Homo sapiens: one gene and its partners. The protein of the gene in region 3 interacts with the protein of the main gene of each other region in a pairwise test. Each region holds a gene or a part of one and is shown on either strand. Other genes may lie near its edges. The genes, in order: GRAPL, NPFFR1, TCP11 and MAP2K1.

Evidence for each region.
Region 1: the proteins of TCP11 (region 3) and GRAPL interact in binary tests that used the Homo sapiens proteins (3 or more experiments, as listed by UniProt).
Region 2: the proteins of TCP11 (region 3) and NPFFR1 interact in binary tests that used the Homo sapiens proteins (3 or more experiments, as listed by UniProt).
Region 4: the proteins of TCP11 (region 3) and MAP2K1 interact in binary tests that used the Homo sapiens proteins (3 or more experiments, as listed by UniProt).

Annotation. Positions count from the first base shown.
Region 1 is NC_000017.11:19,137,560-19,144,593, reverse strand, and holds part of GRAPL (GRB2-related adapter protein-like), read right to left. Parts: intron 6,129-7,034; coding exon 6,006-6,128; intron 492-6,005; coding exon of another isoform or gene 479-491; exon of another isoform or gene 1-478.
Region 2 is NC_000010.11:70,252,978-70,260,011, reverse strand, and holds part of NPFFR1 (neuropeptide FF receptor 1), read left to right. Parts: intron 1-4,184; coding exon 4,185-5,055; 3' UTR 5,056-7,034. UniProt on the Homo sapiens protein: Receptor for NPAF (A-18-F-amide) and NPFF (F-8-F-amide) neuropeptides, also known as morphine-modulating peptides. Can also be activated by a variety of naturally occurring or synthetic FMRF-amide like ligands.
Region 3 is NC_000006.12:35,124,316-35,131,349, reverse strand, and holds part of TCP11 (T-complex protein 11 homolog), read left to right. Parts: intron 1-2,167; coding exon 2,168-2,288; intron 2,289-2,558; exon of another isoform or gene 2,559-2,772; coding exon of another isoform or gene 2,773-2,793; intron 2,794-2,930; exon of another isoform or gene 2,931-3,067; intron 3,068-7,034. UniProt on the Homo sapiens protein: Plays a role in the process of sperm capacitation and acrosome reactions. Probable receptor for the putative fertilization-promoting peptide (FPP) at the sperm membrane that may modulate the activity of the adenylyl cyclase cAMP pathway.
Region 4 is NC_000015.10:66,480,912-66,487,911, forward strand, and holds part of MAP2K1 (dual specificity mitogen-activated protein kinase kinase 1), read left to right. Parts: intron 1-843; coding exon 844-968; intron 969-4,078; coding exon 4,079-4,280; intron 4,281-6,316; coding exon 6,317-6,381; intron 6,382-7,000. UniProt on the Homo sapiens protein: Dual specificity protein kinase which acts as an essential component of the MAP kinase signal transduction pathway.

The DNA of each region.
Region 1 (7,034 bases), on a different chromosome or scaffold from region 3:
GGTGTGAGAGCGTCTCCATTGTGTCTGAGTGTGCATTCCTGGGATGCTTGTGTGTGTGTGTGTCTGTGTGTGTCTCCCACTGTGTGGAGTGACTGTTATGTGTGAGTCTCTCACTGAGCAATCATGAGTATCTTTGTCTCTCTGTGTGACCCCTACATCCACCTACCCAGGGGAACAAGGGGCTAGGCTGACCCCTGGGCTGTCAGAAAAGCCCCAAGGACCAAGTCAGGCCTAATGCTGGCAGCAGCCAGTCCTGCCCAGCGAGTTTTTCTGGCCTGGTGGCGGCAGCAGCAGCAGCAGCAGCAGCAGCAGCAAAGGTAACAGTGTCAGCCCAGAGAGGAAAAACAAGGCTGGGGTGGGGGCAGGAGCCCTAGGACACCCCCTCCACCACCCCAACCAGGGCTTGTGGACGTGTGGACCCACCTGGGTGCTAACTGCCCGCTGGGCGATCTCCATCAGGCATGGCCCCTCTCTGGCCTCAGTTTGCCCATCTGTGAAAAGGAGGGGTGGAACAACCTGTTCGGCAGCAGACAGGAACCAGAGTCAAGCTGAGCTTGGGAGGGGCAGGACACTGGTGCAGACAGACTCCTGCTGGGTCTTTGGAGCTCAGGGAGGGTGGGTGGAGGACAGACCAGGTCTGTCAGGGCACAGAGGTCGGTGGGCACCAGCTCTAAGTTCCTCGCTGTGTGACCTTGGGGAAGTTGCTGCACCTCTCCAGGCTTCAGTTTCCTTACCTGCAAGCTGGGCTTCTGGGGATCAGGCAGGTCTCCTCACTTCCTCCCTGTCCTTGCCTGCAGCCAGTCCCTTCCTCCTAAAATTGCACCCCCCCTCCACCACTTCCCTGCTTCATTTTCTCCAAAGCCTTGGTCATTGTGTAAGATTTTATACAATTTCCTAATCACTTATTGTCTGTCACCCAGTAGCACATGGGCACTTGAGGGACAGAGAGCTTTGCCCTATTTTGTTGCTGGCTGAATCCCCAGGCCCTGGGACAGGGCTGGCACACAGCAGGGGTTCAGTGACCAGATGGGCAGGGCAAACACATGTGCATTGACTCCAGGGTACCTCTGGCTAGAAAGGAGGCAAATATGTCACTTGGAGACAAACTGTCATTTATGGCAGAAGAGTCCACAGTAGCTTGGATAGGAGTGTGGGGCAAAAGTTAGGCAGCCCAGACATTGCACGCCAGCCTTGGCCCCTGGCCCGCTGCCCGCCAGCTCAGACATGCTCCCTGGAGGAGGAGGGGGACAGCCCTTTGTAAACTCATAAAGGGCAGCTAGCTATGGCCACAGTTGCTCTAGGAGGCAGCATGAGGCCCATAAACCCCACCTCTGACAGCTTTACAGGGCTTGGTGTGAGTATGCCAGAGATGCCATGCATAGTGCCATCAGAGTTCCCAAGTACCAACCAGCAAGGGTGGAAGAGCTCTTACACACAAATCTGCCAGGCTGTCATTTTCCGAGGTGGCCATCAGGTCACCCGGCTTCCCAGCATCTGGGTTCCCTGACTCCCTGTGCTGCTGCCTCTTCTCTAAGAGTGCTGGATTCATGGGCAGGGGGTGGGGGGCAGCCTTCCAGGCCAGGAGGGGCTCCCTAATTCCTCCCCAGCTTGGTGTGCAGTCCTTGGAGCCTTAATATAATTATGATAACTGGCACTTATCATGTGCCAGTCATCATAAAAAACACGTTACATAGCTGTCCATTTTATAAATGAGGAAACTGAGGCTCAGAGGGGTAACTTGCCCAGGATTATACAGCGAGCAGCTAGCAGGTGTCAGAGCTGACTGTTGCTCAAAATACCATGCTCTTAGCCACATGCCCCATTTGAGTCTCAGCTTCCAACTCTGACCCCTGCTTGGTGGTTGTCCAAGGACCACTGAGAGGCCCCATGACAGATGATGGACAGAATGGGAGCAGGACCCAGGAGCCTGGGCCCAGGCAGGAAGAAGCCAAGGGTCAATGGCTCCACCTGCTGGTGCTGTGTACAACCCACAGCCAGCCAAGCCCAGGAAGCTCCTGACAGTTTTGACCTGGGCACACTTGGCCAGTATGCCTTGGACAAAAGGTTCGGGGGCACAGGCCAGGATTTCTCTGAGGGTCGCTTCCAGATCCCTTCCCAGGAAACACCGGTGCTGGCTCGCCTGCTCAAGAACTGCTCCCTAAGACTGTCCATCTTCCCTCCTGGTCAGAAAACACGTTGTTATCCAAACACACCCCTCGCTTCCCCACCTCTAGATCTCTACTCATGCTGTTCCCTGTGCCTGGCATATCATCTACTCTCCTTGTGCGCCAAAATCCTACTCATGCTTTAGAGCCCAACTCAGATGTCACTTCCTCCCTGGTGCCTTCACTATGTGGAATGTATCCACTGTCATTGAATTTCATTTATTCATTTGCTCATCATAGAGACCCCTGGGCCAGGCTGTGACCATTTCCCCTTCACATGCCTCTGGTTTGTCTCCTGTTTCAGTCCTGCCTTGTGGTTTTCACACAGCTGATGCTCAATAAATGCGTGCTGAGCAAACTCACAAGGCTGGGGTGTTCAGGTCTGATCATGTGCGTGTGCGCAGGTGGCTGCACTTACAGAGAGACGCCTGAAGAGGGCAGCACACTGGGGCGCTAACTTGGAGAGTGAGGCCGCGTGATTTGTTAGAGGAGGAAGCCGGAGGGCGGAGGGAGGGCCAGCCCCTCCCCCTCAACTCGGGCTCCAGACGTAGTTTGAGTCCCCTGTGCCCCCACTTTGCTGGGTGACCTTGGGCTTTGGGGTTGGTTCCAGGAGCCACTCAGCCAGGCCAGCCCGCCTGGCGGACGCCATTCCCAGGAGATGACCAGGCCCTGGACAGCCGACACTTGGAAGACTGCCACGTCCTGCCTCCGCAGGAGCCGCAGCTCCCCGGGGCTGCAGGGAAGTGGTGGCTGGGCTGGGGGGGTGGGGGGTGAGCCCGCGGGGACTCCAGGCTCCAGGTGCCCACACCATCCCGGGGGTGGGCAGTCAGGGCCAAGAACGCACAGTAAACCCCCAGCACACACAAGCGCACACACGCACATGCTGACAGCACTCGCATTTTTAAGATGGGGAAATAGAGGCTCAGAGGGGGCATGCGCGTTCCTGCCCCTCAGGATCACCAGCCTGCCCCCAGGAGAAAAGGGAAGGGAACAAGGCTGATGGCTGGTTCCACCAACTGGGCGCCCGGGCTCAGGGTGAATGTGGGGGGCTGTGACCCCTGAGACGTTGGATCTGCCTCCCTGGTATGGTTTGGATGTTTGTCCTCTCCGAATCTCTCACTGAAACGTGACTCCCAGTGTTAGAAGTGGGGCCTGGTGGGGGGTGTTTGGGTCATGGGACAGACCCTCATCAGTGGCTCTTTGCAGTAATGACTGAGGTCTGGTTGTTGAAAAGAGCCTGGCACCTCCCTCCCCGACTTGCCCCCGTCTCGCCATGTGATGCGCCGGATCCCCTTCCCCGTTTACCATGCGTAAAAGCTTCCTGAGGCCTCACCAGAGGCACATGCCGGTGCCATGCTTCCTACACAGCCTGTAGAACACCAAGTCAAATAAACGCCTTTTCTTTATAAATTACCCAGCCTCACGTGTTCCTTTATCACAACACTAAATGGACGAACACACCCCTAGAGCCGCCTTCCTGACCATAGGCTCCTATTCCTTGCGGGTGCCTCCAGGCTCAGGGGAGCTCGCCACCCTGCAGGGCTAGCAGCAGACGTGCTGATCCCACACAGTGAACAGCTTGAGCTTGTTTCAAAACAGGCCGGCTGAACACATGGGAGTCACAGGGACCCGGCAGAGCCTGGAAGGCATCAGGTGGGTGGGAATGCTTTTCCCCCAGCAGGAGCCCTCATGGGCTCCTGGCCCAGCCTGTCTGAGTCTGCCTTTGTCTGCTTCTTTGGGACCCCCTGACTCCAAGCCCCATCAAGCTTGCATCTCCACACCCAGCCCCAGTGTTAGCTATCGACCCAGGCCTGTATTTCTTTGTCCTTTATTTTTATTTTTATTTTTATTTTTTGAGACAGAGTCTTACTCCATCACCCAGGCTGGAGTGCAGTGGCACAATCTCGGCTCACTGCAGCCTCTGCCTCCCGGGTTCAAATGATTCTCATGTCTCAACCTCCCGAGTAGCTGAGATTACAGGCGTGCGCCACCATGCCTGGCTGATTTTTGTATTTTTAGTAGAGACGGGGTTTCAGCATGTTGGCCAGGCTGGTCTCAAACTCCTGACCTCAAGTGATCCACCCGCCTTGGCCTCCCGAACTGCTGGGATTACAGGCGTGAGCCACCACACCTGGCCTTCATCCTTTAGGAGATCATGAGAGGCCACTCTGCCCTCCTCTGGGGCCACCCCTTCCTTCATCCCTTCCTCCCGGCTGGACTCTTTACCACCCCAGTGCTAGCTCCGCTGGTGGCAGTAAGAGCTGGCATGGTAAGCGCCTCCTCCATTCCGGGCTCTGTGCCCACAGCAGCCCTGAGAGCTGGTACTGCTGGTGGTCCCCCCGCACACCTCCATGCCTGGGCCCAACCATTTCTCTGTGTCCCCTCATCAGCCCCTACCCGTACAGTCCCAGAGGCCATCATCTCCCTCCTGACTCCCCACGGGCCTCCCTGCCACCACGCTCTCCCCCAACAGTTCTTTCTCCTCACAGCACTCAGAGTCATCTGCTAAAAATGGAGTCCAATTACATCTCTCCCCTGCTCAAGACCCTCCATGGCTCCCTATTGCTCTGAGAGAAAACCCGACCTCCTTTCAGGCCCTCTGTGATCACTGGATGTGGGTGGAACTCCAGCCCCTGCCCTTCGCTCACTCTGCTCCAGCCACGTCACCTCCTCCGGGCTCCTACATGCCCCAATCACATTCCCACCTCAGGGTCTTTGCAAATGCTATTCCCTCTGCCTAGAAGCCTCTCTTCCCAGGTCCTCCTCATTCCTGGGCACCTGGGAAGCCTCCACCTCCTAGTTCAGATCTTTGCTGCAAGGCCACCTCCTCAGAGAGCCCTTTCCTGACCACCTTGGTTCATTCTGTATTAACATGTTTTCTTGTTCACTCACAAAGACTGAAACCCACGACAGCAGCAACTTTGTTTTTTTTCCCATTTGGTTTCCCCAGCCCCTAGAGCATCCTGGCACATGGCACCTAATCAATAAATATTCCTTGAATTAATGCATCTAGATTCTACCAAGGCCTAAGAGTAGGAAGGACAGAGACTAACTAGGAGCCTGACCCTGTCTACCCCCACCCCCATTCCTGCTGCTACTTTCCAGCCTGGATTCCTCAATCACTCCAGGGTGGCCCTTTAGGATTGGATTCTGTGCTGCCCAGAGGCTGCCACACCACAGCTGAGGGCCGCCCTAATACAATGCCAGATGTTCCCCAGCACGGCCACCCTGCCTCCATGCCAGGGACTATTCTAATTGCTTTAAATATACCAACTTGTTTCTTCCGTGCAATAGCCTATTTTACATGTGAAGAAACAGGCACAGAGAAGGTAAGTGACTTGCCCAAGCTCACACAGCCAGGAAGTGGCAGAACTAGCATTTGAGCCCAGGCAGCCTGGCCTCAGGGTGCATCTTCCCAACTATATCACATAGAGTGGGACCCTGTGCGGAGCACATCCTGGACACCCGCCCTGGGCGTTTCAGCACTCTCCTGCCCTCAATCTCTTGCCACATCACCACCCTGGACATCGCCCTCTCCTGATGAAGAACCTATGATGGCTCCTATACTCGTAGAAGCCTGGACCTTCAGCCTGGCATTGAGGCCTTGCACAGCTGGCCTGATCCTGCTTTCCCAACACACCCCACTGCTCTGGGCTGCACCCTGGGGTGCCCAGACCACCGCCTGTGTCCGGAAGGCCTCTGCCCGGACTGCTCCCTCTGCAGGGATGCCATTCCTCCACCCTCACTCCGTGAGCCCGTCCCGGGCCCCAAGGCTCAGCTCAAATGCTGCCCAACCCCGCCCACCCTCCTCTGCACACACCCCCAAGGGCCAGAGCTCACTTCACAGACACAGAGAACTCCCCTGGGGAGCTCTCACTCTCCCGGATCAGGAAGGCTCCCAGATGGTTCCGCTTCATCAGAATCTCTTCGGCCAGCTGCCGGGAAATCCTGCCCGAGTACCACCTGCGGAGAGAGGGAGCCGGTGAAGGCAGTGTGAGACCAGGCTCTCAGCCAGCCTCCCACCCCGTGCCAGGTGTTCAAGGTCTGAGACAAGGGAGATGTGATTGCACCCATTTTACAGATGGGAAAACTGAGGCACAGAGAGGTGAAGCAATACACCCACAATCACACAGCAGAGGCAGGCAGGAGCTGGAACACAATCCCAGCATTTTAGCTCCTGAGGCCAGCCTCTCCTACCATGCCAGCAAACACATACCCTTATGGAAACAGAAAAGTCACACTCCAGTGAGCCACACCCCAGCCAACCTCAGTCTAACTTTCCCTTTGAGATGGTAGATTCTTTAAAGTCAAAAAATAAATCAGGCTCGGTGGTGCGTGACCGTAGTTCAGCTACTCGGGAGGCTGAGATGGGAGGATCACTTGAGGCCAAGACTTTGAGACCAGCCTGGGGAATAGAGAACCTCCCACCCCCATTCCTTAAAAAAATACTTCTGGCCGGGTGCGGTGGCTCCCGCCTGTAATCCCAGCACTTTAGGAGGCCGAGGCGGGAGGATCACGAGGTCAGAAGATCAAGACCATCCTGGCTAACACGGTGAAACCCCATCTCTACTAAAAATACAAAAAAATTAGCCGAGCGTGGCGGCATGCACCTGTAGTCCCAGCTGCTGGGGAGGCTGAGGCAGGAGAATGGCATGAACCCAGGAGGCGGTGCTTGCAGTGAGCCGAGATCGCACCACTGTCCTCCAGCCTGGGTGACAGAGCAAGACTCCGTCTCAAAAACAAACAAACAAACACTTTTTTTAAAAAATAGAGTCTTGTTCTGCCGTCCAGGTTGGAGTGCGGTGGCATGATCTCAGCTCACTGCAACCTCCGCCTCCTGGGTTCAAGTGATTCTCCTGTCTCAGCCTC
Region 2 (7,034 bases), on a different chromosome or scaffold from region 3:
CCTCCCCCACAGCATTGTTAGCAGGGGAAGGGCACCCTCTGGGTGCTTCACCCCAGGGAAAGGTGGGCAGGCAGATCAGCTGGAGATTTGCTCACTCCTGCCTTGGTGTATCATGTTGGGTGGGTCACCTAACTACTCTGAGCCCTTGTAGTCTCATCTGTAAAATGGTAGCTACCCTACAGGATGGTTGGGAGGCTTCAGTGAGCTCCTGCTTGTAAAAGCTTATGCACAGTTCTTGGCATAGAGTCCAAATATCAGTTGCTAATAGTATGTTGTTTCTTCTGCACACCCATCCCCTCCTCCTTGTTCTCTCCCCAGCACAGGCATATCTTAACCCTGCCCTTTGTGGAATCTAGTGTTCACATCCTCTCTCCACCTCAAGCCCAGTTTTTTGTAACTCAGTGAAGTAGGCAGCTGGAGTAATGAAGTGGGTTCTACTCTCCACAAGGCCACTAACTAGCTGGGTGATCAGGAGAAGTCCCTTCCCTTCATCGACCTTTGTTTTGTTATCATTGTTGAAGGAAATGAGAGTGTACAACTTCTCCCAGTGGTGTTTGCAGTATTCTTCAAGTCCCACCTCATCCAGGAAGCCTGCCCAGATTACCCCAAGATTCTCCTCCACCCATTTACTGCTATTGCATTCATAGCCAGCACTACAGGCTTTAAGAATTATTTATTCTCTGGAGATTTCTTTTTCTTTCTTTCTTTCTTTTTTTTTTTTGAGGGGGGAGACAGAGTCTTGCTCTGTCACCCAGGCTGGAGTGCCATGGCGATCTTGGCTGACTGCAACCTCTGCCTCCCGGGTTCAAGCCATTCTCGTGCCTCAGTCCCCGGAGTAGCTGGGATTGCAGGTGCGCACCACCATGCATGGCTAATTTTTGTCTTTTTAGTAGAGAAGGGTTTCACCATGTTGGCCAGGCTGGTCTCGAACTCCTGTCCTCAAGTGATCCACCCTCCTCAGCCTCCCAAAGTGCTGACATAAGCCACTATTCTCTGGAGCTTTCTTGAGTATGTGAAGTATGAAGCCAGTAGGTCAAAGTCATATAGGTTGAGATAACAAGGCCTGAGTCAGGCTGTGGGAGAGGTAAAAGGTCAGGCTATCAGGCCAAAAACTGGGTTGGCAGGAGGGCAGGACACAGTGTAGCGAAGTGGAAAGGACACTTGACTGAGAGTCAGCTCTAGACCTATGTTCCAGGGCAGGCTCTGACTCCAAACAGCCATGTGACCATAAGACCCCCACTGGGCAAGCTTTCCCCTCCATTAAACAAGTAAGATTGACTGGACATTCTTCAGGTTTCTATTTTCTGGCATCAGTAGATGACAGAAGCCATTCTGGGGAATAGGAGCCCCTCCTTTTTCCTCACTATTAAGCATTTGAAATGTCTCAAGAAGTGTGGTCAGTGTCATCTCACTTAATCTTCACAACTACCCAACAGAGTAGGTCATACTATGGGCTTCATTTTACAGATGAGGAAACTAAGGCTCAGAAAGTATTTTGAGTAACTTCCCCTCTGGTCATTCATGCATTTATCTAATCACAACCTAGGAATACTGAGATGAAAAGTCAAGGCATCTGCCCTCACAGAGCTTGCAGTTGAGCAATCGTCTTTGAACCATGCTGCAGGGGGAGGTTTTTACCTCCCCCTACAGCAGCTGTTTTCAACTCTGGTTGCACAGTAGACTTCTCCAGGAGCTTTTTTTTTTTTTGGAGACAAGGTCTTGCTCTATTGCCTTGGCTGGAGTGCAGTGGTCTGATCATGGCTCACTGCAGTCTCAGCCTCAACCTCCTGTGAAGGGGTGGCCTGCCTCTCCACACCTGTGGGTATTTCAAGTCGGGTGGGATGAGAGACTGAGAAAGAGAAATAAGACGCAGAGACAAAGTATAGAGAAACAACAGTGGGCCCAGGTGACCGGTGCTCTGCATACCAAGGACCTGCGCCGGCACCGGTCTCTGAGTTCCCTCAGTTTTTATTTATTATTATTTTCATTATTTCAGCAGAAAGGAATGTAGTAGGAGGGCAGGGTGATAATAAGGAGAAGGTCAGTAACAAACCTGTGAGCAATAGAATCTATGTCATAATTAAGTTCAAGGGAAGGTACTGTGACTGGACGTGCACGTAAGCCAGATTTATGTTTCTCTCCACCCAAACATCTCAGTGGAGTAAAGAATAACAAGGCAGCACTGCTGCAAACATGTCTCACCTCCCACCATAGGGTGGTTTTTCTCTCATCTCAGAACTGAACAAATGTACAATAGGGTTTTATACTGAGACATTCAGTTCCCAGGGGCAGGCAGGAGACAGTGGCCTTCCTCTATCTCAACTGCAAGAGGCTTTCCTCTTTTACTAATCCACCTCAGCACAGACCCTTTACAGGTGTTGGGCTGGGGGACGGTCAGGTCTTTCTCATCCCATGAGGCCATATTTCAGACTATCATATGGGGAGAAACTTTGGACAATACCCTGCTTTCAAGGGCAGAGGTCCCCGCGGCTTTCCGCAGTGCATTGTGCCCCTAGTTTATTGACACTAGAGAATGGCGATGACTTTTACCAAGTATACTGTTTGTAAACATTTTGTTAACAAGGCATGTCCTGCACAGCCCTAGATCCCTTAAACCTTGATTTCATACAACACATGTTTTTGTGAGCTCCAGGTTGGGTCAAAATGGCTGGGGCAAAGTGGCTGGGGCAAAGCTACAAATTAACAACATCTCAGCAAAGCAATTGTTTAAAGTACAAGTCTTTTTCAAAATGGAGTCTCTTATGTCTTCCCTTTCTACACAGACACAATAACAGTCTGATTTCTCTTTCTTTTCCCTACACTCCTGGACTCAAGTGATTATCCTGCCTCAGCCTCCTGTGTAGCTGGAAGAATAGGCAAGCATCCCCTCATCTGGTTAATTTTTTTGGTAGAGATGGGGTTTCACCATGTTTCCCAGGCTGGTCTCCAACTCCTGGGTTCAAGTGATCCTCCTGCCTTGGCCTCCCAAAGTGCTGGGATTATAAGCATGAACCATGGCACCTGACCCCAGGAGCTTTAAAAACAAAAACAGCACATAACAAATAATGCTAAAACCACTTTCTAGACTAATTAGGTTGGAATCCTTGGCCTGAAAAAATAGGCACGGGTTTTGTCTTTGTTGTTGAAATGCTTCAGGAGAGTCTCATGCACATGGAGGGTTTACAGCTACTGGTTTATATGGCATATGAAGCAAGACAAATCTGGGTTCAAGACTGGTCCTTGCAACTTGCTATGTGAACTTGAGCCAACTGCTTAACACTCGAGTCCCAGTTTCCTTGTCTGTAAATCAACAGTGTAGTAACTATCTTAAAGGCCTCACCTTTAAAAAATAATAAAGGGTGTAATAACAGATGCTGAGTTGTCCTCATGAGGAAATAAATGGTGCAGACTTGTCCTTGCATTGTAGAGATACTGATACTATGGCCAAGATGACATAGGGACAGCCTGACATGTAGGCTCTACATCTGACCTCCTGAGGTTTTCTGGAGAATCCATAAACAGAAACTGTGTTATTTGACGCACCTAATCGTCCTTGTCGAGGACAGACTGCGCACTCTGATCGCTCTGCTAGCTGCCAGCTAATCAGTTGACCCCCAAAAGTACACAAATGGCCCCGCAAGGAGGCTCATATCTATAATCCCAGAAATTCGGGAGGCCGAGGCCGGAGGATAGCTTGAGCCCAAGACTTTGAGACTAGCCTGGGCAACACAGTGAGACCTCATCTCTCCAAAAATTGAAAGAAATTAGCCGGCGAGGTGGCAGCGCATTCCTGTGGTTCCAGCTACTCAGGAGGCTGAGGTGGGAGGAGAGGATCACTTGAGCCCGGGAGGTGGAGACTGCAGGGAGCCGTAATCGCGCCACTGCACTCCAGACTGGGCGACAGAAGGAGGCCCTGTCTCAGGAAAAAAAAAAAAAAAAGGAGAAAAGTGCAAAAGTGCACACAGGATTCATTGTTCCCACACGATCTGCGGTTTCCTCCTCCCTTCTCATAAATCCTGTAGCTGCCTTTGTTCTTTGACTACTCAGCCAATTCAGGTCTGAGCTGTTCTTCGACGCCGCCCTAGATGCGATGATGAAGGTCAGGTGCCCGCATCCCACCCACCGTCCCCTCGCAGGGGCCCTAGGACCCACCCAGATCCCGCCTGTCTCTCTCCCCGCGGCAGGTTCCGCTGCATCGTGCACCCTTTCCGCGAGAAGCTGACCCTGCGGAAGGCGCTCGTCACCATCGCCGTCATCTGGGCCCTGGCGCTGCTCATCATGTGTCCCTCGGCCGTCACGCTGACCGTCACCCGTGAGGAGCACCACTTCATGGTGGACGCCCGCAACCGCTCCTACCCGCTCTACTCCTGCTGGGAGGCCTGGCCCGAGAAGGGCATGCGCAGGGTCTACACCACTGTGCTCTTCTCGCACATCTACCTGGCGCCGCTGGCGCTCATCGTGGTCATGTACGCCCGCATCGCGCGCAAGCTCTGCCAGGCCCCGGGCCCGGCCCCCGGGGGCGAGGAGGCTGCGGACCCGCGAGCATCGCGGCGCAGAGCGCGCGTGGTGCACATGCTGGTCATGGTGGCGCTGTTCTTCACGCTGTCCTGGCTGCCGCTCTGGGCGCTGCTGCTGCTCATCGACTACGGGCAGCTCAGCGCGCCGCAGCTGCACCTGGTCACCGTCTACGCCTTCCCCTTCGCGCACTGGCTGGCCTTCTTCAACAGCAGCGCCAACCCCATCATCTACGGCTACTTCAACGAGAACTTCCGCCGCGGCTTCCAGGCCGCCTTCCGCGCCCGCCTCTGCCCGCGCCCGTCGGGGAGCCACAAGGAGGCCTACTCCGAGCGGCCCGGCGGGCTTCTGCACAGGCGGGTCTTCGTGGTGGTGCGGCCCAGCGACTCCGGGCTGCCCTCTGAGTCGGGCCCTAGCAGTGGGGCCCCCAGGCCCGGCCGCCTCCCGCTGCGGAATGGGCGGGTGGCTCACCACGGCTTGCCCAGGGAAGGGCCTGGCTGCTCCCACCTGCCCCTCACCATTCCAGCCTGGGATATCTGAGGGGGTCCAGGGAGGGCGGGACGCTGCCTCAGGGCCCCGATTGGACACGAGATACATGCAGGCGATAGCGGCCTGGTGTGGTTAGGTGAGGATGCGTGGTCCCTCCCTCTCCAGAGCCAGGCAGTGGTGGGCAGCTGCTGGTGATGTCTTCTCTGCTGCCTTCACCCTCAGTAGAGGCAAATGCGGGGGACGGGAAGGAACCAACTTGCCCTGTGTGGTGGGCTTGACAAACATCATCTCACTGAATTGTCACAACGCTTTGGAGATAGGTTGTCTTCTCTTCCTTCTACAGATGCAAAAACTGAGGCCTGGAGAGATGTGACTCACCCAAGTTTCTCAGGTGGAAATGGCATGTGAAGCTATCTGACTCCAATACCTGTGTGGTTTTTATCATCTCCAGCTGGCTCCAAGAGGGCCCGGTAAGGTAGAACACTGTGAACTGAGTAAGTCCTAATTAGGCAGCTAGGAAGAAGCGAAAAGCAAAGCCGGCCTGTCCCTTGATGCTTTGTGTCCATGTGAGGGAGTCCCTCATGTTCCGTTACTGAAGCCACTCCCCTTGATCCTTTTCTAGAAGAACACGGTGTGCCCCCGCTGCCGGCTCTAATGTGTTGGTTTGTCTTGTTTGTTCCAAGAAGTTCCAAGAAGCCATTGTCCTCAGAGGACGGCAGCTTCAGAACGAGCCTTGGGGAGGCTGCCTCAGTTGCAGGGCACTCTAGGTCTTGCCCTCTGGGTCTGAGCTTAGAGAACAGAGGAGGGACTCCCAGACCAAGGCAAGAACTTACAATGCCACAGACATTGTAATGCTGCAGGGCCACAGGAGGTGTCCTTTTACGTACTCATAGACAACGAGGAAGGGGAAGCACGGTATGCATTTTCCACATTGGGAAACACATCTGCTCACTGGGGCTGCAGGTACAAAGCCTTGCCCAAGGTCTCTCTCCTCCCTGCTTCCTGGGAGGGAGAAGTTGGTCAACTGAAGCTGCAGCCGGAGTGCCATTTGGAGACTCCTGAAGGACACACACTAAACTCTTCCCCAGCACAAATGACTTGTGTACTCTAAGGAGGTACCAGGAGAGCCCTGTTTACTCTGGCTTTCCCCCAACACCCCTGCATCAACTTGAAGAAATGTGGCTTCTTTCCAGGAGACGGGAGCACATGGGATTGCCTTGGAGGGTCCTTTCACAGGCCCCTTCATCTTGCACTTAAATGGACATTTCCCCCCACCTCTGTAGAAAACACGGTGTTGCTAGAAATTTAGTAAACAAAAAAGAAACGTTTCCAGGGGTCGGGGCTCTGAGGCTCTGTTCCCTTAACCGACACACAGTGACTGTTTACTGTTTGCTCCACTCTAAGTTCCAGGTTTAGGGGCAGAAGAAAATTCCTAAGCAGTTGTACAATACATTCTCCAAGCATGTCCCCAGACACCGTCTCATTTAATCCATAGTAATGAGGTTGAAGGAGATTGAATGTTATTGTCATTTCACAAAGTGACTGAAGCTCAAAGGGGCCAAGTTTCCAGGGCCACAGAGGGGCAGGATTTAGATTAAAATTTGTCTTCTGATTGTTCTTCCCACCCCACATGCTGCCTTTCAAGGAAGGTGGGGATGACGGGAGAGCTGGTAATTTCCCCAAAGGCTTTTTTGCCTAACAGTGAACCAGAATGCCCACTCCTGGTGCCCAAGCTCTTGGTCTGGGAAAGAAATCTATTGTGTTTACTCTCGTAATGTCCAGCCTGAGTTGTTCTTGCCCTGGTGCTGAGCAGGCTGCCAAGAGCCATCATGACCTTGTCCTGGTTCTGGGGGTGATGGATGAGGGTCTGAGAGAGAGTATGCCCTCCTGCCCCTCAGTGGTATTAGCTGGTGCCATGCATTTCTGGTACTGTATCAGTGTCATGTGTCATATGGGCCAGAGAGTTCCCAGCTGGTTCTGGGCTATTTGTTGTGAAGAAGTCTGACTCCAGGCTCTAAAAGTAAGCCAGA
Region 3 (7,034 bases):
GTGATCCGCCCGCCTCGGCCCCCCAAAGTGCTGGGATTATAGGCATGAGCCACCGCGCCCGGCCTTCTTTTTGTTTTGAGATGGAGTCTCGCTCTGTTGCCCAGGCTGGAGTGTAGTGGCACAATCTTGGCTCACTGCAACCTCTGCCTCCTGGGTTCAAGCGATTCTCCTGCCTCAGCCTCCTGTGTAGCTGGGATTACAGACGTACACCACTACACCCAGCTAATTTTTGTATTTTTAGTAGAGATAGGTTTTCACCATGTTGGTCAGGCTGGTCTTGAACCCCTGACCTCAAGTAATCCACCTGCCTCAGCCTCCCAAATCATTTTTTTATCATTGAATAATATTCCATTTTATGGGCAGTTTATTTATCAGTTGAAGGACATTTTTGTTGCTTCTAAGTTTTGGCACTTATGAATAAAGCTGCTATAAACATTTGTGTGCAGGTTTTCGTGTGAACATAAGCTTTCAACTCATTTTGGTATATACCCAGGAGCGTGATAGCCAGATCATATGTAAGAGTATATTTACTTTTGTAAGAAACTGCCCAGCTGCCTTCCAAACTGGTTGTACCATTTACATCTGACCAGCAGTGAATGTGAGTTCCTATTTCTCTATATCCTGGTCAGCCATTAGTGTTGTCAGTTTTCTGATTTTGGCCATTCTAATAGGTGTCATATAGCGGTGTCTTTTTTTTTTCTTTTTGTTGTTTTAATTTGCAACTCCCAAATGACAAATGATGTTGAGCGTCTTCTCATATACTTATTTGCCATCTGAACATCCTCTTTGGTGAGATGTCTGTTAAGGTCTTTGGCCTATTTTTTAATGGTTGTTCATTTTCCTATTGTTGCGTTTTAAGAGTTCTTTGTATGTTTTGGATATATATCCTTATCAGATATATATTTTTCAAAGATTGTTTCCTAGTGTGTGTCTTGTTTTTTTGTTCTCTTAACAGTGTCTTTCACAGAGCAGAAGTTTTTAATTTTAATGAAGTCCAACTTAGCAATTTTTTCTTTTGTGGATTATGTTTTTGGCATTGTATCTAAAAGGTCATCACCAAACTCAAGGTTACCTATATTTCCTCCTATGTTATCTTCTACAAGTTTTACAGTTTTGTATTTTACAAGTAGGTCTGTGATCCATTTTGAGTTAACTTTTGTGAAGAGTTTAAGGCTTGTGTTTAGATTCTTTATTTTTTTGTATTTAGATATCTAGTTGTTCCAACATTATTTGTTGAAAGACCCTCATTTCTAAATTGAATTGCCTTGGCTGGGTGCAGTGGCTCACGTCTGTAATCTCAGCACTTTGGAAGGCAGAGGCAAGTGGATTTCTTGAGCCCTGGAGTTCAAGACCAGCCCGAGCAACATAGCGGGACCCCCATCTCTACTAAAAATAAAAAAATAAAAAAATTAGCTGGCACGGTGGCTCATGCCTGTGGTCCCAGCTACTCAGGAGGCAGGGGCAAGAGATTTGCTTGCGCGTGGGAGGTTGAGGCTTCAGTGAGCCTTGATTGTGCCATCGCATTCCAACCTGAGCAACAGAGTGAGACCCTGTCTCAAAAAATAAAATAAAACAAATTTCCTTTGCTCCTTGTATTTTTTTCAAGGTGAAAAAAAAGACTTCTTTCTGGCTTCCATTACTATATAGATGGTAGTGCCACTGAAATTGGGAATACAAGAGGAGCAGGTTTGGAGGAGGAAGATAATGAATTTAGTTTTAGATACGCTGATTTGGAAATATCTGTGGACCTTTGGTATTTTCAAAGAAGCAATATCCTTTCCTAGATTTCAGGAGTATAAGAAAATGAAAGATCATTTAGCTCAATGCTATGTGTATACACAAATGGAAATCAAGTTATCTAGGCTAGATGCACAGTCAGTGCTAAAAGTCAGCCTGACTTCTCTCCATTCAGGGTTCTTTCTACTGCAGAGAGAGGGCTGCTCTGGAACCACAAGGAGCCCTTCTGAGAGGTTTTGCCATTGCCCTTGAAATACAAATCTAACCCTAGCTTGTTCAACTCTGCTGCAGTTCCAACATAGTTCCTGGCCTTTCCCTGTTATTATAATGGCCTTTTACCATATCAAATTCAGTTTGGGGTTTAGGAGGTTATGACACTGTAACTGTTTTTGGGTTGAGAGAGTAATCTGCTCATTTAACCCTCTTATAGTCTGGAAGGCAAGGTCAAGGAGACAGTGCACAATGCCTTTTGGGACCATCTTAAAGAGCAACTATCAGCAACTCCCCCTGACTTCAGCTGTGCTCTTGAACTTCTGAAAGAAATTAAAGAGGTGAGTGACCTTCCATTTGTAAATGTAAAGTTTCTAGACATCTCCAGCTCATTGGAGTGTCAGTGGCTAGCAAATCTTAACTGAACATGGTCCATGAATCAGTCAGAGACTAAGCAATAGACAGAAATCATACAGTAATTTTAGCAGGGAGGGTTTAATATAAAAATTATTATAACAGAGAGTAGGAGAAATGAGGGCTTGGCTAGTAAGAGTAAGGAAAACTAAAGAATCCTTGAATATCAGATAAAAGGGCATCTATCATACCCTTAGGGCTGAGAGAGGCCAACCAAGGACCTCATTTGAGAGGGCATAGCTATGCCATGAGACGTTACTGGCCTGTGTATGCTGCTGACCACAGTGCACTGCAGGAACCAAGCACTGGAGAAGCTATTCATGCTGCAGGAGCCAAGTACTGCAGGAGCCTGCTGAGTGAACATACCAGAACCGGGAATAAAAGCTCTTGCCTTTGCAATGTCTTTCTAGTATGTGGCAGACATACCGTAAGGTGACCCACAATGTTCTGCACCCTTGTATAATCTTCTCCCCTTGAGTGGATGAGATTTGCAACTTCTAAGCAGTACGGCAAAAGTGATGGGATATAACTCCCATGATTACATTTCATCATGTAATACTCTGTCTTAGGAGACTGGAGGGAGAGATTCTCCTGCTGGCCCTGAAGAAGCAAACAGCTGTGTTGTGAACTGCCTATCGAGAGGGCCACATAGCAAGGAGCTGCAGGTGGCTTCTAGGACCCGGGGTTAGCATCCAGACAATAGCCAGTAAGAAGCTGGGGCCCTCAAGTATACAGTTGTGAGGAAATGAATTCTGCCAACAATCTGAATGAGCTTGGAAACGGAATCTTTCCCAGTCATGTTTCCAAATGAGAATGCAGCCCAGCTAACACTTTGCTTGCAGACTTGTGAGACCCTGAACAGAGGACCCAGCTAAACTGCGTCTGTACTTCTGACCCACAGTAACTGAGATCATAAATGTGTGTTCTTATAAGCTGCTAGGATTATGGCAGTATGTTACACAGCACAGAAAACTAAATAACACTTTCTGCCGGTGAAGCTTAAAATGTGCTATCTGGCAAAGGAAAGATATGGAAAGGACTTAGTTCCATTTTCACAGAGCAAAGAACAATGGATTTGGATCTGTGAGGCAATATATTGATAAATGGCACAGTCCACCCCTTCGGCTACTCAGTTTCCACATGCGCTCTTCTATACACATTTGAATTCCTGAAAAGAACTCTTACAAGACAGATAGCTATTTATTATTTATCCTCCCCCAAAATGAGGAGACATGGCCCAAATAGTTATTGTATCCATCACTGGCCGCTCCTCAAATTCAGCCAGTTTCACTGACTATTGTGTTACCTAAAGGCTAAATCATAAAATTTAACTTCTAACAACTTGTATATAAAATAACAATGGAAAGAAAGAGGAAGAACAAAATGTTGGCATATATAAATAAACATACATATAATAAGCAAAGATAAAATTTATAGTCCTTGTTTCCATAACTGGTCACAAGGCTATAGTTGTTATCTATGGCTTCCTTCTTCCACGATTCATTCATTCCATATTTCCCTTGTCCTTGGCCAGAACTTCAGCTAGTTGGGGTTCTTTATCTGGTGCAGTGACCCAAACCTTCATTGCCAAAGAGTCTGAGACATTTTGCTTTGTTTGTTGTGGTTTTCCATTAACCTTTAATATTGAGCTTGGAAGTACTAAGAGGCAACTCAGAGAATCTCCTGAGTTTCAGGCATGGTCTTTCTTACCCCCATTGTGTGGCCACAATCCAATTTCTCATTGGTACTCAGGAGCAAGTACGGCATCCAGTACAGTAACTCCTTTTTTTACCCTTTTGGTTCAGTGGTATAAGGAGCCCCCAATGGTCAGTTTCATCTTCTGTTTCATTGGAACCAATGCAAGTATTTCACACAAATCAGCAGACCTCAAAGTTGGCAGGATGGGAAACAAAAATCCTGCAAGTGGGTTATCAGGTGTGCTAGTAAGAGGAAGCAGTCCTACTTCTACTGCTTGATTCCTGGACCCATGTATTCTGGCATTAGGGGACAGCACCATAGAATGGTCTTTGAAGCCAGGCACAGTGGCTCACACCTGTAATCTCAACACTCTGGGAGGCTCAGGTGGGCAGAATGCTTGAGTCTAGGAATTTGAGGCCAGCTTGGGTAATGTGGTGAAACCCATCTCTACAAAAAATAGAAAAATTAACTGGGTGTGGTGGTACATGCCTCTATTCCCAGCTACTCAGGAGACTGACACGGAAGGATTGCTGGAGCCTGAGAGGCACAGGTTGCAGTGAGCCATGATTGTGTCACTGTGCCCCAACCTGGGCAACAGAGCAAAACCCTGTCTCAAAAAAAAAAAAAAAAAAAAAAAAAAGTCTTTGATTCAAAGCATATATTGCATCCTGTAAGACCAATTCCCTTCCTTTCAGGTATTGTTGCTCACCTAATGCTGTAATTGAGTCTAAAATAAGCCATTCTACTTTTTAGTTAGGGCCAGCTGATTCTCAGTGAAAGCTTTTTGGTCAGACCAGTTAATTTAGTAGGTATGAATTCACTGCATTTCCTTTGCTGTGAAATGAGTTCCTTGAGCAGATGCAATGCAATGGAGTAGGCAAAGACCCAGGACAGCTGATAAGGCATTCTGTGATTATCTGGATGCTGGTACTGACAGAAGCATGGCAAACAGGGAAGACAACTCCATATCCAGAATATGTGTCTATCCCAGTAAGGATGAATCTCGCCCTCTCTAAACTGTTAGAGGTCCAGTGAAATCATCTGCCATAAGATGGCTGACTGATCCTCCCTGGGGAATGGGCCATATTGGGGGCTTTAAAAAATTTATTTAATTTTTTTTAGGATTTGTTTTTGTTGTGGCAAAATATTCATAACAAAATTTACTATTTTTTAGTGTTACAGTTCACTGGCATTAAGTATATTTACAATATAACCATCACCACTATCCATTTCCAGAACCTTTGAATCTTCCCTAACAGAAATTTTGTACTCATTAAACAATAATTTCCCTTTCCCCTCTCCCACTAGCACCTGTACTTTCTGTCTCTATGAATTTGACTACTCTAGGTACTTATAAATGGAATACAATATTTGTCCTTTTAGTTTTGGACTTGTTTAACTTAGTGTAATGTTTTAAAGGTCCATCCATATTGTAGCATATATCAGAATGTAATTCCTTTTTATGGCTGAATAATATTCTTATTATATGGATAGAATACATTTTGTTCATACATCTGTTGATGGACGTTTAGGTTCTTTATGCCTTTTGGCTATTGTAAATAATGCTGCTGTAAACCTTGTGTACAAGTATATATTTGAGTCCCTGCTTTTAATTTTTCTGGGTATATACCTAAAGTTGGAATTGTTGGATCCTATGGTAATTCTATGTTTAACTTTTTGAGGAACTGCCAAACTGTTTTCTGTTGTAGCCACACCATTTTATATTCCTACCAGCAATGTACCAGGGTTCCAATTTCTCCACATCCTAGCCAGCATTTGCTGTTTTCCATTTTTGGTAATGGCCATTCTAATGGGTGTGAAGTGGTATCTCATTGACTTGCATTTCTCTTAATGGCTAGTGATATTGAGCATCTGTTCGTGTGTTTGTTGGCTATTTGTACATCTTCTTCAAAGAAATGTTTACTCAGGTACTTTGTCCATTTTTAAATTGGATTGTCTTTTATTGAATTTTATGCTTTTGGTGTCAAATCCTGCCAAATCCTAGATCATGAATATTTACACCTATGTTTTCTCCAAAGAGTTTTGTAGTTTTAGCTCTTATGTTTAGGTCCTTTTTTTCTTTTTTCTTTCTTTTTTTTTTTTTTTTGAGACAGAGTCTTGCTCTGTCACCCAGGCTGTAGTGCAGTGGTGCGATCTTGGCCACTGCAATCTCTGCCTCCCTGGTTCAAGCTATTCTCCCACCTCAGCCTCCCAAGTAGTAGCTGGATTACAAGTGTGCACTATCACGCCCGGCTAATTTTTTGTATTTTTAGTAGAGATGGGGTTTCACCATTTTGCTCAGGCTGGTCTCAAACTCCTGACCTCAGGTGATCCGCCTGCCTCGACCTCCCAAAGTGCTGGGATTACAGACGTGAGCCACTACCATTTTGAATTAATATATATATATATTTTTTATTATACTTTAAGTTTTAGGGTACATGTGCACAACTGAATTAATATTTTTATATGGGGGTAAGGTAAAGGTCCAACTTTGTTCTTTTGCATGTGAATATCCTGTTTTCCCAGCACCATTTGTTGAAAAGACTGTCCTTTCCCCATTGGTTCTTGGCATTGTTGTTGAAAATCATTTGACCTTATATATCCAGGTTTTATTTATCAGCTCTCTATTCTTTTGGTCTGTGTATCTGTTCTTATTACCAGTATATGCTTGGTCTCTTATAAGCCATTTTCATTTGATAATAGATTGCTGCTGTGCATGTCCAGTCTTGTAGCTACGTAAGTTAGACAATACCTAATTCCTGATGGGAAGCTTAGGCCACATGGTTACCCAGTGTTCTATAGTAAGGTGTTTACTTTCTACCAAGGCCCAAGAAGTTGTTTCTCAAAAGGTGAATAATTATCATTAAAGAAGGAATAGATTTGCTCCCAATTCCTAAAGGTCCATGTGTGGTTCCCTTATTGGTGCTTGCAAGACATTCTGTACAGCACCCTTATTTGCTATGGACACTTAAAGT
Region 4 (7,000 bases), on a different chromosome or scaffold from region 3:
TTACAGGACAGTTGTATGAATCAGAGGATACAGCGGAAGAAAAAATGTTTGGAAATTTAGGTCTCTGCAAACTAAGGGCCAATGTACTGGTATTTGTGACAGTGACCGGATGGGTGGGATGGGGTGATAATAAGAGTGCAAGGAAGGGGGATGGGGGCATCGTTTTGACTCTGAGGAGCAGCTTTAAGGCCTCTCACATTCCAGCTCCAGGTAGCAAGGGGTTCCCCTTGACTGGCAGGGTAGATGTACCTGTGTAGGCTGTTAGGTGAGTGACTCCAGTGGAATGGAATGGAATCATGACTCAGCTCCCACCCTGCCACACATATTTGTAAGAAAAAGACCCACATGCTCCATGCCTGGTGCAGAAGTCTAGAATGGGAATTCCCGCCAAACCCTGTCCCCTTCTAGCCTGTGTAGCCTCAGCAAGCAGATAGGTCTTATTACTTGTTTTTTTCTGCCTCCTTCATGATCCAGCCATAGATACTATATCTTACCAGTAGGGGTGGTTGAAGCAACAGACTTTGAAATCCTGACTGTTCATGATAACGGACTCCTTCCTGTGGATCATCTGGCCAAGTCTGCATTCTTAGAGAGTGGAAATCGACTGTCTTTCTGTTCTACTTCTACAGCAGCTGCTCATTTCATCTCCTGACAGTTGCTTCTTGAACTCAGAACAAAGGGCCTTGGTGTACAGTGTTTGCAAGCCAAGGGCTGCCTCTGATGGCGGACGGGGGTGTGGTCCTGGGACTCGTGGTCAGGGCTGGTCTGTGTGGAATGCTGATCCTTCTCTTCCCCAATCTACCTGTGTCAGTTCCCTCCTTTTCTATTTTCTCTTCCCTGCAGATGTCAAGCCCTCCAACATCCTAGTCAACTCCCGTGGGGAGATCAAGCTCTGTGACTTTGGGGTCAGCGGGCAGCTCATCGACTCCATGGCCAACTCCTTCGTGGGCACAAGGTCCTACATGTCGGTATGAACAGAAGTTTCCATTGCTTGAGCTTCTTGTACGGTCAGGGAGAGGAGCCCAGTGGGTGCCTTTCCTGTGGAGCCAGAGTCTTGTGCTGGGTAGGGGACAAGAAGTGAGGGAGGAGGCACAGTGCTCTGCCCTGAGGAGATGAAGTTGAATGGGAAGATGGTCTTGGTCTTTCTTAGGCCTTGGAGCATAACTGGGATATTGGGGCCTTGACTCACTGAAAGGACTGTCCAGCTCCAGAGTGTGGCTTTCTTTCTGAAGGATTGTGAGCTCCAGCTCCCCTCTGGGCATCTCTACATGATAGTCTTCAGATCCACAAACCCAGGATGCTCAGATATAATCCACCCCAAACTACCTCACCTTCTCCTTTTCTCTTAGCAGTAAATAGACAGCATCATCTCCCTGGTTTCCCAAGGTAGAAACCTGAGCATTGGCTCTTAACCTGCCTTCTCAGCAGCCCGTCCTTTCAGTATCTTGTAGCTCCCAACTCCTGAGAGTCTGTTCAGAATTGTCCAGCCTCTTTTCTCCCTCCTCACTATGTCTGTCAGACATGTACCCCTCCTTCTAACTGCAGCATACCTGGACCCCTCGCCAGAGTCTCTGCTCCACTTCAGCCAACACCCTGTGTTGAGGGTATTTCCTCCTGCTCCTGGCTCTGCTGGCTCACACTGTCACCAGAGCATTGTGTGGGGCCATCCTCACACTATGGCAGCACCAGCGTGTTTTCTTCCCTCCTCCATACCACCGGTTCCTTGGGGACAGGGACAAGGTGTCTCTCTTGTCCCTAGTGCCTGGCATGGGGCCTGGCATGTGGTAGGTGTTCAGGGAATGCTTGGCAAGTGGGTAGATGTTTAGTTGGCTGAGTGGGAGGGTACATGGATAAAACATTTCTGAGAATGATTTGGAAAGGTGGAAACGTGAGTCTGGGCCAGTGCTGAAGTGCGGCAAAGTGGAGGAGCGTTGGAGTGAGTAGGCAGTCTTTACAGAAGTGGCGGGGAGTGCAGGCCCGCGTGGAGAGGGGGACAGGCGCAGAGGCTCAGATCTTAACTTGTACAAAGCATTTTATGTGTTCTCTGTCAAAGCACATGTCATGTCCCTGGAAGGTCTCATTTGATCCATGTGGTTGTCCCAGGAAATAAAGATTATTGTTCCCATTTTAGAGGTGAGGAAGTCTAGATTCAGGGAGGTTAAGCAACCTGCCTACTTAACCTTGCTGAGCCAGGATTGAAAGCTAGCTGCCCCCTTGCCAGGCAGACGCCCTTTGCACAGCACACCCTCATTTGCCTCTTGGGGAGGATTTGGCACCTGTGCCCAGATCCCAGTGTGAACACATCCTCATTCCTTCTTGCTGGCACCTACCCCCCACTGTGACTCCAGCCACTGTCAACATCACTCACCTGGCACTGACCCACATCCCCACCCCTCCCCTCCAGTGACCCACAGTGGAACTCTCTTTCTCTGTCATCTCCTCATTGCTTCTTCCCTAAATGTCTAATAACTGAGCAGCTGGCATCCTGGGCCATTTGACTGCCAACTCTCAAGTTCAAAATCCATTAACAGGCCCTGGGAGTTACTAATCAAGGGTTTAATGGTTGGGGTTTTTGTGGTTATATGGTCAGTTACGAAATAGTCCAGTGTTGGAGTTAGTGAAAAATGCTACTGGAGAAGTTAATGTCTACGTGAATATACTATGGGCAGAATAAAGATTTTTTCGGTAGGGTTCTTGAAATACATGTGCTATTTCAAATAATGCTCATTAAAAATAATGCTTTTGTATAGCACTGTATACTTTTTTTCTCTTTGGCTTTTCCCACCAATATCAACCAATATTTGTATTGCATTTTACAACATTTGACATACATTTTCTTTTTTTTTTTTTTTTTGAGACGGAGTCTCACTGTGTCACCCAGGCTGGAGTGCAGTGGTGCAATCTCGGCTTACTGCAAGCCCTGCCTCCCAGGTTCACTCCATTCTCCTGCCTCATCCTCCCGAGTAGCTGGAACTACAGGCGTGTGCCACCACGCCCGGCTAATTTTTTTGTATTTTTAGTAGAGACGGGGTTTCACCGTGTTAGCCAGGATGGTCTCGATCTCCTGACCTTGTGATCCACCCACCTCGGCCTCCCAAAGTGCTGGGGTTACAGGCATGAGCCACCGCGCCTGGCTGTACATTTTCATTTGATTTGATCTTCTTAGTAATCCTAAGTAGAGTTTTCTTATATCATTGTTACTGTCATTTTCATCATCATCAGCCACCACCCCCCCCCACCTTTTTTTCTTCCGACATGGAGTTTTCGCTCTTCTTGCCCAGGCTGGAGTGCAGTGGTGCGATCTTGGCTCACTGCAACCTCTGCCTCCCGGGTTCAAGTGATTCTCCTGCCTCAGCCTCCCAAGTAGCTGGGATTACAGGCATGCACCACCATGTCCAGCTAATTTTTGTATTTTTAGTAGAGATGGGGTTTCACTATGTTGGCCAGGCTGGTCTCGAACTCCTGATCTCATGTGATCCGCCTGCCTCAGCCTCCCAAAGTGCTGGGATTACAGGTGTGAGCCACTGCGTCCCGGCCCAGCAGCAGCCCCATTTTATAGATGAGGCTGATATTCAGGATCTTTTAGCTTGTAAGTCCCGGAATTGGGATTTAAGTCTCAGGCCCACTGACCCCAGATCTTTTGTTCTATGTATCCACGGCACCACCTCACTCCCAACCCGCATTCCACAAGCTTCATGTTTCAGATTCAGTGACAAGATGAGCCTCTCATGCTGGGCTTCGGACAGGCTGCCCTGCGTGTGCAAGACTGTGGCCAAGCTGGGTAAAGCTGGAACCACAGGCTGTAGTGGCAGCCAGGGCACAGCTGATTACATGTGGTCTGTCAATTTAGGCCAGATTATAGGAGAAATAGAGCAGGGATGAGGGGTTAAAGCCACAGAAGCCAGCTAGGATTTGGTAAACACAGTGTTGGGGGTAGGCAGGAGGCCAAATTCAAGAGGTTAGTGGAGCTCTTGAAACAGGATATGAACTATTGAGAAGGGACAGAAGAGAAAATGCATTAGCAGACCCAGGGGTCCAAGTTAGGTTAGGTGATTATCACTGTCTGTCTCTCCTGCAGCCAGAAAGACTCCAGGGGACTCATTACTCTGTGCAGTCAGACATCTGGAGCATGGGACTGTCTCTGGTAGAGATGGCGGTTGGGAGGTATCCCATCCCTCCTCCAGATGCCAAGGAGCTGGAGCTGATGTTTGGGTGCCAGGTGGAAGGAGATGCGGCTGAGACCCCACCCAGGCCAAGGACCCCCGGGAGGCCCCTTAGCTGTGAGTAGCCTGGTGTGTCCCCATCTTGGACTGTTGGAGGGGAGGGTCCCTTACTTTCAGGGGTTTCTGGAGGGCTGATTCTCTGTACATTCTGCCAAGACTGATTCTCTGTCCCTGGATGCCAGGCTAGGGCCAGGGGAAGCAGCAAGGGTCTCCAGGTGGGTGTTGTTACTACCAACAACTTCCTACCATTTGTTGAGTACGTACTATGTTCTAGGTACTGCACTTAGGACTTTATACATTATCTAACCTTTTGTATTTATTATTTTTATTATTAAGGGTCTTGCTATGTCGCCCAGTGCAGTGGCTAGTCACAGTCTTCAACTCCTGGGCTCAAGCAGTCTTCCTCCCTCAGCCTCCAGAGTAGCTGGGACTACAGGTTATAATTTATTTGCGGGGGTTGGGAGGGAAGGGGCTCACTCTGTCACCCAGGCTGGAGTGCAATGGCATGATCACAGCTCACTGCAGCCTCAACCTCCCAGGCCCAAGTGATCTTCCTACCTCAGCGTCCTGAGTAGCTGGGACCACAGTCACATGCCACCATGCTCAGCTAGGTTGTTGTTTATTTTGTAGAGATATAGTCTCCTTATGTTGCTCAGGTTAGTCTTGAACTTTTGGGCTCAAGCAATCCTCCCGCCTCAGCCTCCCAAAATGCTGAGATTACAGGCATGATCCACCATGACTGGCTTCTAATTTGTGGGTTTTTTTTGTTTTGTTTTGTTTTTGATACTGGGTCTTGCTCTGTCACCCAGGGTGGAGTACAGTGGCGCCATCATGGCTTACTGCAGCCTTGACCTCTTGGGCTCAAGTGATCCTCCTGCCTCAGCCTCCTGAGTAGCTGAGACCACAGGCATGCGCCACCATGCCTGACTAATTTTTTTAATTTTTTTGTATAGATGAGGTCTCACTATGTTGACTAGGCTGGTCTGGAACTCCTGGGCTCAAGTGATCCTCCTGCCTTGGCCTCCCAAAGTGGTGGGATTATAGGCATGAGCCACTGCATTCTAATTTTTTAATCATGACTTTTGGTAGATTTATTTTTTATTGAGATATAGAATTCACATAAGACAAAATTCACATTTTAAAGCATGTAGTTCAGTGGTTTTTAGTGTATTGTTCCATGTTGTGCAGCCATCACCACTGTCTTATTCTGGAACATTTTCATTACCCCAGCAAGAAACCCCATCCCCCACTCCCCCCTGCCTGATCCACTGACAACCACTAATCTACTTTCTGTGTCCACGGATTTGCCTAGCATTATATAATTTTAATAGCATTTCATTTGTGATCACGACTATAATCTGAATTTTAAAGATGAGGAAACTGAGGCACAGTGCACTTGTCAAGGCCACATAGGCTTGCAAGTAGCCAAGTCTGACTCCCAAGATGATAAACACTGTGCAGTACCACCTGCCTCTCTGAATGTGAATACTGGGAAGTAAACCTGGTACTCAGGGAATAGCCTGACCTAGCCAACTGTTTTTTATGTAGCTCCTGTCTGGCCAGGGATACCTGCCCTGTACCTCCATGAGGTCCACATGAGAGAGAGCTTGTATAAAGGGGAAAGCAGAGGGGGCTAGAGGTAGCTGATGGCAGGTCATTGGAGGGGCTGGTGGCTGTGGCCTCTGAGGCTCGCCAGTGACTCTAGGAGACAAAAGGAAGAAACGCAACTTCATGGAGAATTAAAACTAAGTCCTTTAGTTATTTAGTTGCTATCTCATTTGTGCCTCTCTCAATAGAAGGAAGGGGGAAAGGACAGACATAATTATTATGTCTCTGCTTTACAAAACTCAGAACTTTGTTTGGCTCAGCAGTGAACTGATTTGCCAAAGGTTACGAACTTAAGATGTGGCAGAGCCCAGACTTGTACCCTGGCCTTTGCTGGTCCCCTCTGTGTTCAAGCCTTATCTGTGGCTGTTTAATGTTTATTGTCCATGACCCTGTTCTGGTCCCAGGGATCCATGCCCAACCCCTTGCCTCATATTAACAAGTAATCTGTTTCTGAGAAGTATTTTTTCTTTTTATAAAATTTGTAGCATACGGAATGGACAGCCGACCTCCCATGGCAATTTTTGAGTTGTTGGATTACATAGTCAACGAGGTAAGTACTGCCTGGTTTCCTTCACCTTGGAATTTACTTGCTCATCTTAAGAAAACACCCAGGTGGCCGGGTGCAGTGGTTCACGCCTGTAATCCCAGCAGTTTGGGAGGCTGAGGCGGGTGGATCACACGAGGTGAGGAGTTCGAGACCAGCCTGGCCAACAAGGCAAAACCCCATCTCTACTAAAAATACAAAAATTAGCTGGGCATGGTGGTGCACGTCTGTAGTCCCAGCTACTCGGGAGGCTGAGGCATGAGAATTGCTTGAACCTGGGAGGCGGAGGTTGACTCTGGGAAAAACAAAACAAAACAAAAAAACAAAAAAACACATCGCTGTCACAGGTTCAGTCTACTAGGGAGTTTAATTTAACCTCTCTTTACTGTATGCACAGCTTTATACTAAGCACCATGGGCTGTAGAAAAGCAGTTTCAGGATTAGTTCGTCGCTGCTTAAGGATTTGAGGGAGGCAGAGCATGTTGCATTTGTAGGAGTCAGAAAAAAAGCCATCCATCCTCTACTGCTGGGGACCTAGGCTAGGTGGTTCTGGGTGGTAGTCATATTAAGGGAAGGGATATCTGAGGTTAGATACGCCATTGCGTCTCCTAGTGTGCACTGCTTT